Regions from separate parts of the Homo sapiens genome. Here region 2 is linked to region 1. Evidence: fine-mapped expression QTL. Tissue or cell type: thyroid. Region 1 holds a variant in brackets; the other region holds the start of a gene. All regions are shown on one strand. Distances are between the middles of the regions.

Region 1 (5,384 bases):
CTTACAGTTGGTAGGAGACATAAGATGTACACAAATAACTGTTATAGAGTCTAAATGTTAATTTCCAAAATAGATGTGCAAGTAGAGTGTTACATAATTTCAGAGGAGGAGGCCAGTTCTCCCAGCCTCAGAGGTGAGAATGGGCTTGTGGAAGAGTGGTCTTTGAACTCAGTTTTAAAATATGTGCAGGATTGCTTTATGTGGAAAGCAGAGAGGAAGAACATACCAGGTGATGAGATGTTTCAGCAAGGGCACAGAGCTGAGGAAAGTAACAGCAACCGGAACTGGTTAGCTTGGACATAGGATGCATTACAAGGAGTAAATGGAGATAGGATTTTGGGAAGAGAGGCTGGCTGGAGCCAGATGTTAGTGTTGAATTAGACAATTTAATCAAGAAAAACTTCTGTGCCAAGAGTTGCAAGATTGAGATCTCTTTGGGATTATGACTGTTGCCCCATTGTGCTGAATGGATTGTTATCAAGATAGAGCGGAGGCTCTAGGAGAGAGATTTCTGTGTCTGTGTGAAAGGTAAGGAGGGAAAGGAGAGACACTAATCCAGCCTGTGAAATCACCTTCAGAATTAAGAGAAACTGATAAGAGGAATTAAAGTCTGGATTAAAAATGACTTGGAAACTGAAGGAATATAGGCGGCAAGTAGAGGGTCAAAGATGACGGGGTTTTTGACGTTGGGTAAATGAAAATCATTGGTGCTATTAATTCAAATTGGGATATTTGGAAAAAGAATACATTTTAAAGGAAGAAAATGGCACATAAGTTTATTTTAGTACATGCTGAATTTGACATAATTGCTTCTTATTGTACACCTTTTTGATGTTTGCATGTTTGTGAAAATTTAAACTAACTCTCTTGTATGTTAATAAGGAAATAAGTTAATGTTCATTTCACTAACTACTTGAGTTTCTACTCAGTTCTGTGCATTCTGAGAGGCTCTGTGTATTACTTATATGGGCAATGTGGAACTAGATATTCCTGGATGATCAATATGGTGAATTTTTCTCTTTTCCTTGTAAAAATAGAGTTCTCAAATTATTCTGGCTTTGAGTGTAAGATTCTGTAATTCTTTGCTTTGCAAGAGAATGTCTAGATAACCCATCTCTAAGAATCATGCTTATTAAATTGCGATAAAGAAAAAAATAGGTTAATGGGACTCAGCAATTAGTGAAACATACAGAATAATAGACATTGAGTCATTGTTACTTTCTTAACCCACCCCCAAACTGGGAGACCCCGTGCCAGGCTGGTAGGAACATGGGCTTTGGAGTGAGACTTAGGTTAAAATGCCAACTTTACCACTCTTTAGCAGTATGACTGTAAGTTAGTTCTTTAACTTCCATGAGCCACAATTTTTTCATCTGTAAAAAGAAAAAAAAATGTGGGAGGAAGGTAATTGTGAAGATCACTTTAGATAAATCGAATGAGGCATCTTATATCCTACTTAGACCACAATGTGGTCCGTAATGAATATCTCTTTTTCTTTTCATGTTTAGGTCTTGTAGAGTCAGTGACACTTGGAGAGGAAATAAATGATAAAATCTCTAAATGTTGGTGCTGTTAATAAGTTGTCTAGAGCAAATTTATACAGTGAGTTTTTTTTTAAGACACAGGAAAACAATAAAAATATTTTTATATTCTTCAGAGGATTGCAAATTCATGGATTATTAAAGAATAAGAAATGCAAAGGTCATGTAACCCAACCACCTTTCTACTAGAATGTTTGTATTATGTTTACAGGAAAAAAAAACTTCCTGCAGGTTTATGAGAACTTGGTTTTTACTTTTTGGTGGTAGTAAGGGGCCCTTTTCTGGTTTAATTTAGTAACTAACATGTCAATTGCTGTAGTTCTTTAGAGAAATGACAACTAGTAATGAAACTATATCTTACTTTCGTGTGACAAACTTGTGTAAAGAGTATATATATATATATATATATGTTCATGTTTATTTGCTATATTAATTACCATAAAAGGGACATTGAATTGGTTCAGTCTGTTAGAAAGAAGACAC[A/G]CTTATTGCACAGTGTGAGCTCAGGTCCTGACACCATTTTAAACCTAGTTAACCTGACTGACTTAAACCATGGTTGTACTTGAACTATGGGATTTTCATATAGTTTTCTACTCCTGATGCTGTAGGCTGCCTTTTGGCTACAACCAAGAACTTACTTGCTGTAGGACATTATCCTCAAGGTATCATCAGTAAGGGTTGGATTGTGAAGCCAATGACAATTCAAAGCATTTTCTTTGGAAGTCCTTTTGTGTAATCAATTATTCAAAGTCATAGCCATAAACCCAAACCTTTCCTTAGATACCCACGACTACAATTTACATTTAAAAAATTGTGCTTTCATTTTTGTTTTCTTTCTCTTGTTTGTTGTTGTTGTTTTTTTTCTCTTGTTGTCAGACACTTTCAGTGTGAAATTTTTGCTTGGACTGCATTGTGTTGATTCAGATGCTGACATTTAAAAAGCCAAATCTAGAGAAATGAAGCTTTTGGGTAAACTTTCGAGTAATAAGTGGATGATTATGTCCATAATGTTGTTGTGACTTTTAAATGACATTTAGGATGGTAACCTCCTGACATATGAGTAATGATGGGTGGGTTTTTAAAGCCCACACTTTTCAGAACACTCTTCATTTCCTTTTCATGTTTTCATGTCATTAACTGTGAGAAGTTGTACTTTCCCAAGGCATGACTTATTTATTGACTTGAACAGACTTTCTAATTTAGTTTTTCATCCCTCATATTCACAGTTTGGATTGGAGGTGTGTATGAAAAATGTATTGGTCACATTAAAGATCTATTTAAAAGAAAACCTTAATTATTCATGAAGACACCCAGACCTGTTAACCTTTTTTATATTCCTGTATCCTTAGGATCCTGAGTTACTGAATTGCCCAGTGTAATGATGATATTTGAACCTAGCTATACATCACATCATTTAGGGTGCTTTATAAAAATGTTAATCCTCAAAGGACCCCCTCCACAAGGTATTTCTATTTAATAGGTCTGAGCTGGGTCCTAGGAATCTGAGTTTCAAGATGTTCTCAGGAAAATCTGATGCCCAACTAAGTTTGAAAAGCACTTACTTAGTCTTTTACAATATCCAGACATAGTATGTGTTGCAAAGTAATGAGAGAGTTGGTGTTTTGAATTAGATTTTTGATTTCATAATTATTTGTAGATCTCTCAAAACGTAGAAGAACCAAGCTCTTGTCATAGGGATTTTAGTAGCTTTTCCTTAGATATTTTCTAGTCTTATTTTATAGATGAAAGAACTAAAAGTATAGAGAGGGTGAGTAACTTGATTAAGGCTCCTCAGCACTTTCCCATGGAAGCCATAATGGTGTCCAGGGAGCCTGGCCACTCCAATCAGTTGCCTTTCTAGCACCCTATGCGACTACCATGTTATCAACCACAGACTACTGTTACCACATTGTTGGAGCTGAGTAGCCATGGGGCACATTAAATTAATGAAAATAATATGTGGCAGATCTTTGACTTTCATGTTTCTTCTGGGAGAGTTGACTTGGATTAATGTCTCACTTTTTTATTGATTTTTAAAAAATACTTTAAGTTCTAGGGTACATGTGCACAACGTGCAGGTTTGTTACATATGTATACATGTGCCATGTTGGTGTGCTGCACCCATTAACTCTCATTTACATTAGGCATGTCTCCTAATGCTTTCCCTCCCCACTCCTGCCACCCCACGACAGGCCCCAGTGTGTGATGTTCCCCTTCCTGTGTCCAAGTGTTCTCATTGTTCAATTCCCACCTGTGAGTGAGAAGATGCAGTGTTTGGTTTTTTGTTCTTGCAATAGTTTGCTGAGAATGATGGTTTCCAGCTTCATCCATGTCCCTACAAAGGACACGAACTCATCCTTTTTTATGGCTGCATAGTATTCCATGGTGTATATGTGCCACATTTTCTTAATCCAGTATATCATTGATGGAATGTCTCACATTTTTAATGCTAAAGTTTCATTCTACTCATTGGTGCTTTTGCTTCTTCGGTAAAGATTTTCTAAAATGTTTACATAGGTAAGATTGCTTTTGAGTAAGAGTAGGTTGCTTTCTGATTTTGTTTGGATCTTTGGTGTTAACAATGCCTCTTGACAAAGTTCTCCTAACTAGACTGGTAATTTGATTTGTTTGGGTCAGGAGGCATGGAAGACATCACACTCTGGATGTCTTCTACATCCAGAAGGATGGAGGCATGGCAGATGTCACACTCTGGATGTCTTCTACATCCAAAAGCTGGAGGCTCTGCCTGTCTGGTCCCAGCTTTGTGTGGAGAACTTCACTTTCCTGATTCTACTTCTTGTTTTGTTTTCTACCTTCTTCATTCTTTTCCTCCTTCCTTTTCAATTGTGAGATACTTCTAACACAAAAAGAATATATTCAGTGTCCATGTAAAGTAGAAAGAATTAAAAAATGAATTATATGCACTCACCATTAGCTTAATAAATAAAATGTAATACTTTGGCCTCATTTCCCCTTCTGTAAAGGGAGGAAATTGGTCTAAAAATGTACAAATACCTTTCTGCAATGATTTCAAAGTTCCATTCTATAACTTTTTGATCTTTCGTAAATTAGTACACTTCCCTGATATCAAAACAATGTTGTGAGACTATATGCACGTTTAAAGGTCTTTTGAGCTTTTGAAGAAATATTTTAGATAGTTGTAGGTAATCTAAATTGGATTGAGATAAAGCCCAGTTAAGTCAGGCATTAGAATAAAAAGCTTTAATTGTAATTATTTAATATTCAACAGTGGAATTTAGATGACATCTTGGTGGCAACCTGTTTCTTTGGCTTGCTAATAACATTTAAGACATTTATAAAATTATCATTTTGTAGTATTAATTATATGCTATATACATAACAAGTGGTGTTTAAGTAGCAACACTGTACATTGCCAGTAGTATATAGTGTCATAGATGAAATAGGGGTTTTAGAGGAAGACAAAAAAGGCCAATGTTCTTGTATATCAACAGGTTAGTTGCCTAGCCTCGTCACTGATGGCTTCCTTCACCTATTCATTTCTAGTTATTGACTCCTTTTCTGCTGGAATTTGAGTCTAGCCTTTATGTTGCTCTGATACCCCAAGGTCACTCTTCCTAATGATTTAGGGCCCTTGAAGTCCTGGGCAGTTGTTGGTTTAGGCATACATCCAGAAAGTAAATGTCACACTATTTTAGTTACATTGGCTGTGGTATGCAGCAAGAAGGGAAGGATCTAGCCTGGAAGAATCCGATGCTATGGAGGAAGCTAGGGATAGAGTGTGGTTTGGAATTCATAGAGGGCAGTGGTAGAAGCCAGCACAATTGAGAGTCTGGGGACCTGCAGGTCCTGGTGACTAAGGCA
Region 2 (5,384 bases), 36 kb before region 1:
TCTGAGGGTAAGTTGCAGATGTGATGCCCCTTTACCACTTCATATTTCAGTTTCTCCTTCCTAAAAACAAGAACACTCTACTACATACCTTGAGTACAACATCAGGAAAATAACAATGATCCATTTTAATCCATTGAATCCACAGAATCCACTGATTGTGCCACAAAAGTCATTTATAGGTTTTGGATCCCATTCAAGATCACATGCTGCATTTAGTTGTCTCATCTCTTTAGCATCCTTCAATCTGAAACCATCTTTACTATCATAGTCTTGACATTTTTAAAGAATACAGGCCAGTTATTTGATTTTTCTTTCAATTTGCATTTGTCTGATGTTTTATCCTAACTTACATATTTATGCATAAGAAGTGACACTACATTCTCAGCATATCATATCAGGATGCTGCACAAGGCTGATTTGTCCCATCACTGGTTTTCATTTATGTAAAATTTTACCAGTCGATTAAGATGATACCTCCCAAGTATTACAGCTGCATGTTAATAAGTATGCTGTACTTATTAATAATTAATGATGTATTAATGAACATTTTTAGAGATATGCTTTGAGACTATGTAAATATCCTGTTCCTCATCAAACTTTTACCCACCAATTTTAGCATTTATTGATGATTCTGGCCTGAATCAATTATTAAGATGGTGGTTGCCAAATGGTGGTTTTCTAATTCTATCTTTTCTTCTTCATTTATTAGTCGCATTCTACTATAGAGTTCCCTTCTCTGTTTCTATCAGCATGGACTCATGGACTCTTATTTTACTCAAAGGGTTAAATTTGTCATTAACTATTTTACTCCTTAAATAGTTCAAGATTTGGCCAACAGGAACCCCTTCAAGCTGACTTCTGTCTTCTTTTGACATGTCTCCATAATTCTTTAAGTATTTTCTCATTTCCTTGCACAACAAATTATTCTAGTTTCATCCACTATACCAAGGAACTGTGGTTCCTTTCAGTGGAGGATGGTATTAAGAAACCAAGGTCTGAGTGTTAGGTGTGTTCATTGCTACTGGGGTGCCATTGCTTTTAGGCCTTCTCAGTCGACAAACCTAGGAAATATATCACCATATACACACACATATACACTTATATTTTTCTGTCTATCTATCTATAATCTCTTTGGATCCAAAATCATTTTACACCTTCATCTCCAACTTCAAGGCACATAGCTAGATCTCTTGCCTTTCTGTATTGGTAATTCCCTTCTCCAGCAGTGAGATGACTGGCTCCAATTTTCTTAATGTATTTACTTCTTTGCTCAATTCCCTAGCACATAAACCAATCTCTTGGCCATGTCAGCAAAAAATGTGTCCTGTCTCTATTACATACATATATATATAAAATACCCCCCACATACATACACATACATATGAAATCAGATATTTTATGTATAAGAAACCATACTACATAGATATATCAGGAATCCCATATAATACACAAAATGTATCAATATGAAAATACATATCTAATTCCTATAAATATCTGATTTCACATATTTTTTTTTAAAGAGAAGTACACAGTAAGGCTTTCTTCTGATGAGCCTGGAGCCTGCTGTTTATACTTCCACAGTATTATTCCTTCATGCTGTACTTGGCCCTCAAGGAGCTGCTAGCCTCAGAAATGCAGAGTTCCCACTGGGTGTGGTGGCTCAAGTCTGTAATCCCAGCACTTTGGGTGGCCAAGGCGGGTGGATCATCTGAGGTCAGGAATTTGAGACCAGCTTGGCCAACATGGTGAAACCCCATCTCTACTGAAAACACACAAAAAATTAGCTGGCAGGCACCTGTAATCCCAGCTACTTGGGAGGCTGAGGCAGGAGAATCGCTTGAACCTGGGAGGCGGAGGTTGCAGTGAGCGAAGATTGCACCACCACACTCCAGCCTGGGCAACAAGAAGGAAACTACGTCTCAAAAAAAAAAAAAAAAAAAAAAAAAAAAAAAAAAAAAAAAGCAGAGCTCCTCAAAGCGGAAGTTTCCCTAGTTGCTACCTTTCGCTCCATGTACAGCCTATTCTTTAACTGTGACAAACGGCCACAGCCAGCTCCACAACCGGCTTGAGCCAAGTATTGAGCCTGAGGAAAGAAAGATTTTATATTTCAGCTTTAATAAACAACTGGGACATCTGTTACAATTCTATTTTCCTCACTAGGCTGGGTATGGTTTCTCTTGGTTGCAGGTTTCCCCCCACCCCCCGCCTTTCTGTGTACTAAGCCTACCATAACACACATGTCTGCTTGTGTGTTATCCCATTCGACGTGAAGGCTTCAGGGCAGAGACTGCTTCCTTTATTATCCATTTCTAATGTTAGAAGAGGGTCTAACACAGAGCAGGTGCTATTTGTCTATTGAAGGAAAGAATGAATACATCCATTAATCAATGTAGAATGGCGGGAAAAGACACAATTTGGGAAGGAGACTTTACTCTTTAACTTCTGGACCCATGTGAATGAGGAGTCCAGGTCATCCATCGTTAAAGGCATTTAGGTATTTTATTTCAAGTATTTTTCCCCTTTTCTGGTGACATACTACAATTCAGGACTAAATCTCAAATTTATTCTTGATATTGATAGCATTGATATTGCACACAAATCCCACGGTTACCGTCCAGCACTAGTGATCTTGTCCTATTTCCACCTGCAGCTTTTTGAATCTAAGTACACATCGCATTTCAAAACTCCCACGTTAAAGAAAGGCATCAGTTCAAGTTACTTTCTCATTTTCTGTCTTCGACTTTTTTCTGCTTCCCCCAAGAATATCTGAGAGTTACTTTTCTCGAAAGTTCTTTTGTAGTGTTCCAGATAGGAATCATCCTGTAATATTCCAAATGCAGCGTGTGGTGTGCATGTTGAATACATAAAAATGACGAGGTTAGGAACAATATCGCTGACGGTCGCGGTGTCCCGTTTTAATTTAGAGGGCGCCAGCAACACGTCAGTGAGGGAGATTCAGAAGCCGCCGGGCACCTCACCCCGGGCCGGGAATCCCTAAGAGAACCTTGACGCCGCTGAAGTTTCCGGACCGGGCCAGTTTGGAATTGACGAAAGCAGCCTCCGCCCGGTCGAGCCAGTCTCTCGGTTTTCTCGGCGGCTTCTTGAGGATGAGGCATTTCTAGGTTTTCTCCTCCTCGAGCAAATCACGGTCTGCGCCTTCCGCGGCTCTGGGAACAGGTGAGCCGTGCGGCGGCGCCCGCGGGACGCGCTCAGGTGCCGGTCCCCGCCCGCCGGCCCCTCCCTGCAGCACGCGGTCCGGGCCCAGGTGCCGGGGCCCAGGTGCCGGCGCCCAGGTGCGCGGGGCACGGGGCTGCAGCTCCGCTCGGCATCCGACAGCGGGCGCCGCTGCAGCAGCTCGCGGGCCGCGGAGCTGAACGGCTTCGCGAGTTGGGGCAGCTCCTCGCGCTCGGCCCTGCTCGGCGGCGAGAGCTCCGCCTGGGCGCCGCGTTCCTACAGCCGCCGGAGCCGCCAGGCGCCGAGGGAACGGACAGACCTCCGCGCACCCTTGCCGACCGGGGCGGGCAGAGGCGGGCAAGCGGCGAACGCCTGGGAGCGCGGAGAGCCAGGCCAGCCCGGAGCGCGCCGGGGACACCCTGTGCGCCCCGAGTCCCGGCACCATGCGACCCGCCGCGCGTCCTCGCGGGCCCGGGGCTTCGCTCTTCGCTCGCTGAGCCCCTGCGCTCGCCACCACGGAAACTCGGAAAGAGGAGGCGAGGCTGTGGGGAGCGGCGCGGAGACGGACTAGACTTCCCCTCCGCCCCCAAGAGGCTGCCGGTCCCCGGTTCCCTGGGCTTCTCCAGCTTTATCATGAACCTGGCGCAAGGTTGGCTTTAGGAAAAATTCTGGAGCCAGAGGGAGAGTCAAGGCAATTCTTTGGTTGCTAAGGTAATTGTAGTTGTGATAAAAAATGGGCAAGAAACAAATGGGGGAAAAACATGGTTTAAAACAGTATCCTCCCTCCCCACCCCATTAATATGTGTTGATTTCATCTCCTGGGTGTGGGTGCTTGTCCATTTCAGATGCGTGACAGGTGCCCGTGTGTGTGTGTCTGCAGTTTGGGACTGTGGAAGCACGAGCTTACATAAGTGGTTAGGCAAGCTGGCGTGTGGACTTGTGTGGGATGGGTGCAGGTCTGCATATAAATCATGTTCCTGGGTTTCTGGGTGTGAAGCGCACACCGACGGGGACGAGAGCGCAGAGGATGGCGCTTTTAGATACTTCCAGTCTTCCGATGTTGTGATCGCAGGTAGGGCAGCTTTGCCTCTAATCAGGCGTTCATTAACTTTTTCCCTGAACAAGCTCGCCCATTTGTGGTTTGGAAGAAAAGAAAGCGAGTCTCCGCGGTGAGGTGTGGAGGGCAGGGGCGGGTGGGGAGGTTTGTTGTTTGGGAACTGCGCTAGCAAAGGAAGCGGTGGCTATTCGCTTGGAGAGGATGACAAATGAACTGGTTGCGTGAGGAGTGAAGAGACCGTGTTTACAGTCACCAGCAGGCTGCGTAAAGAAGTGGCCCAGTGAGACAGGGAAAGTGACCCAGAAAATTTAGTTTTGTTCAGAATGAAAGCTGCTGTATTTCATTTTTGTTTCTTAATTTGACGGAGTAGGAACGTTATTTTCCTTCTCTGTCATTGAGACCAGTAGCATTTCTATGTTACAAACTGAAGATATTTGGGGTCTCGTCGGCTTGGGATTATCAATGCTTGGGAGGTGAGTTCTGATCAATACCTTTAACAACCCCAAAGAAAAACGCAAAAATAATCAAGTTTAGGTAAAACTTCCACTGGACTTTCTTTCCAGGGAGGGTGAGAGATGGAAGAACTGGGCTTGTAAGTATCAAAATGGAGTTAGAGAATGAGCTACAAGTTTGTGTGTGTATGGTCTGTCAAAAAGTGTTAAGACTGAAAGGAAACTGTTAGGTTTAGTTAAATGTGTTGACAACACGGCTCTTACATATCAATTTTCATAGGCAAATAGGTAATTACATAGAGTGGGAACTGGGACTATGGTGGGAAACTTTCTGTAAGATGTATATTCTTTATTCTTAATTTATCACTTTTTCAATGGGTGGGACTACTCTGTGAAGGAAAGTAGAGGGCTGAGGGACATTTGGTGAGACTCTTGAGAGAGAAACCTTTGCAAGCCAAATCTCGCATGCTATAGATGATAAATTCTAAGTTCTTTGATATTGTACCACTCTTAAGCTAAATTGTCCTGTAAATATGATCTCATGCACCATAAACTATATATATGTAGAGAGAGTCTATTCCCAATAACTCATCCTTTCCTGAAAGAGTCTGCAAGTTCTATAAATGTCAGCTGTTGGGAGGTATTGTGATGAAGGAGAGAGGCCACCAGTGTTTCCTTTTATATATTTATTCTGGCAGATC

Which allele goes with the higher level. Alleles are on the strand shown, and positions count from the first base shown. SD is a standard deviation of normalised expression in the study named.
For the expression in thyroid of the gene that starts at base 3,373 in region 2, G is the high allele of the variant in region 1 and A is the other (small effect, 0.23 SD a copy in GTEx).

Evidence for each region. PIP is the estimated chance that this variant, and not a neighbour inherited with it, causes the effect.
Region 2: it holds the start of RGS6, and the variant in region 1 is fine-mapped to the expression of RGS6 in thyroid (GTEx, PIP 0.98).

What each region holds. Positions count from the first base shown.
Region 1 is chr14:71,965,261-71,970,644 of GRCh38, forward strand. All of the region lies in intron 2 of RGS6 (regulator of G protein signaling 6), which reads left to right. Among named protein-coding and RNA genes, the nearest start is that of RGS6, 36 kb to the left of the region's middle. The variant A/G (reference allele first, on the strand shown) is at 2,025.
Region 2 is chr14:71,929,057-71,934,440 of GRCh38, forward strand. It overlaps RGS6 (regulator of G protein signaling 6), which reads left to right and starts at 3,373. Exons shown (of 18, transcript NM_001204424.2): 1 at 3,373-3,885. It overlaps LOC124903404 (translation initiation factor IF-2-like), which reads left to right and starts at 2,870. Exons shown (of 2, transcript XM_047432046.1): 1 at 2,870-2,969; 2 at 3,113-3,834. The coding sequence starts at 2,870. The coding sequence ends at 3,834. RefSeq lists silencers at 3,162-3,441, 3,462-3,621.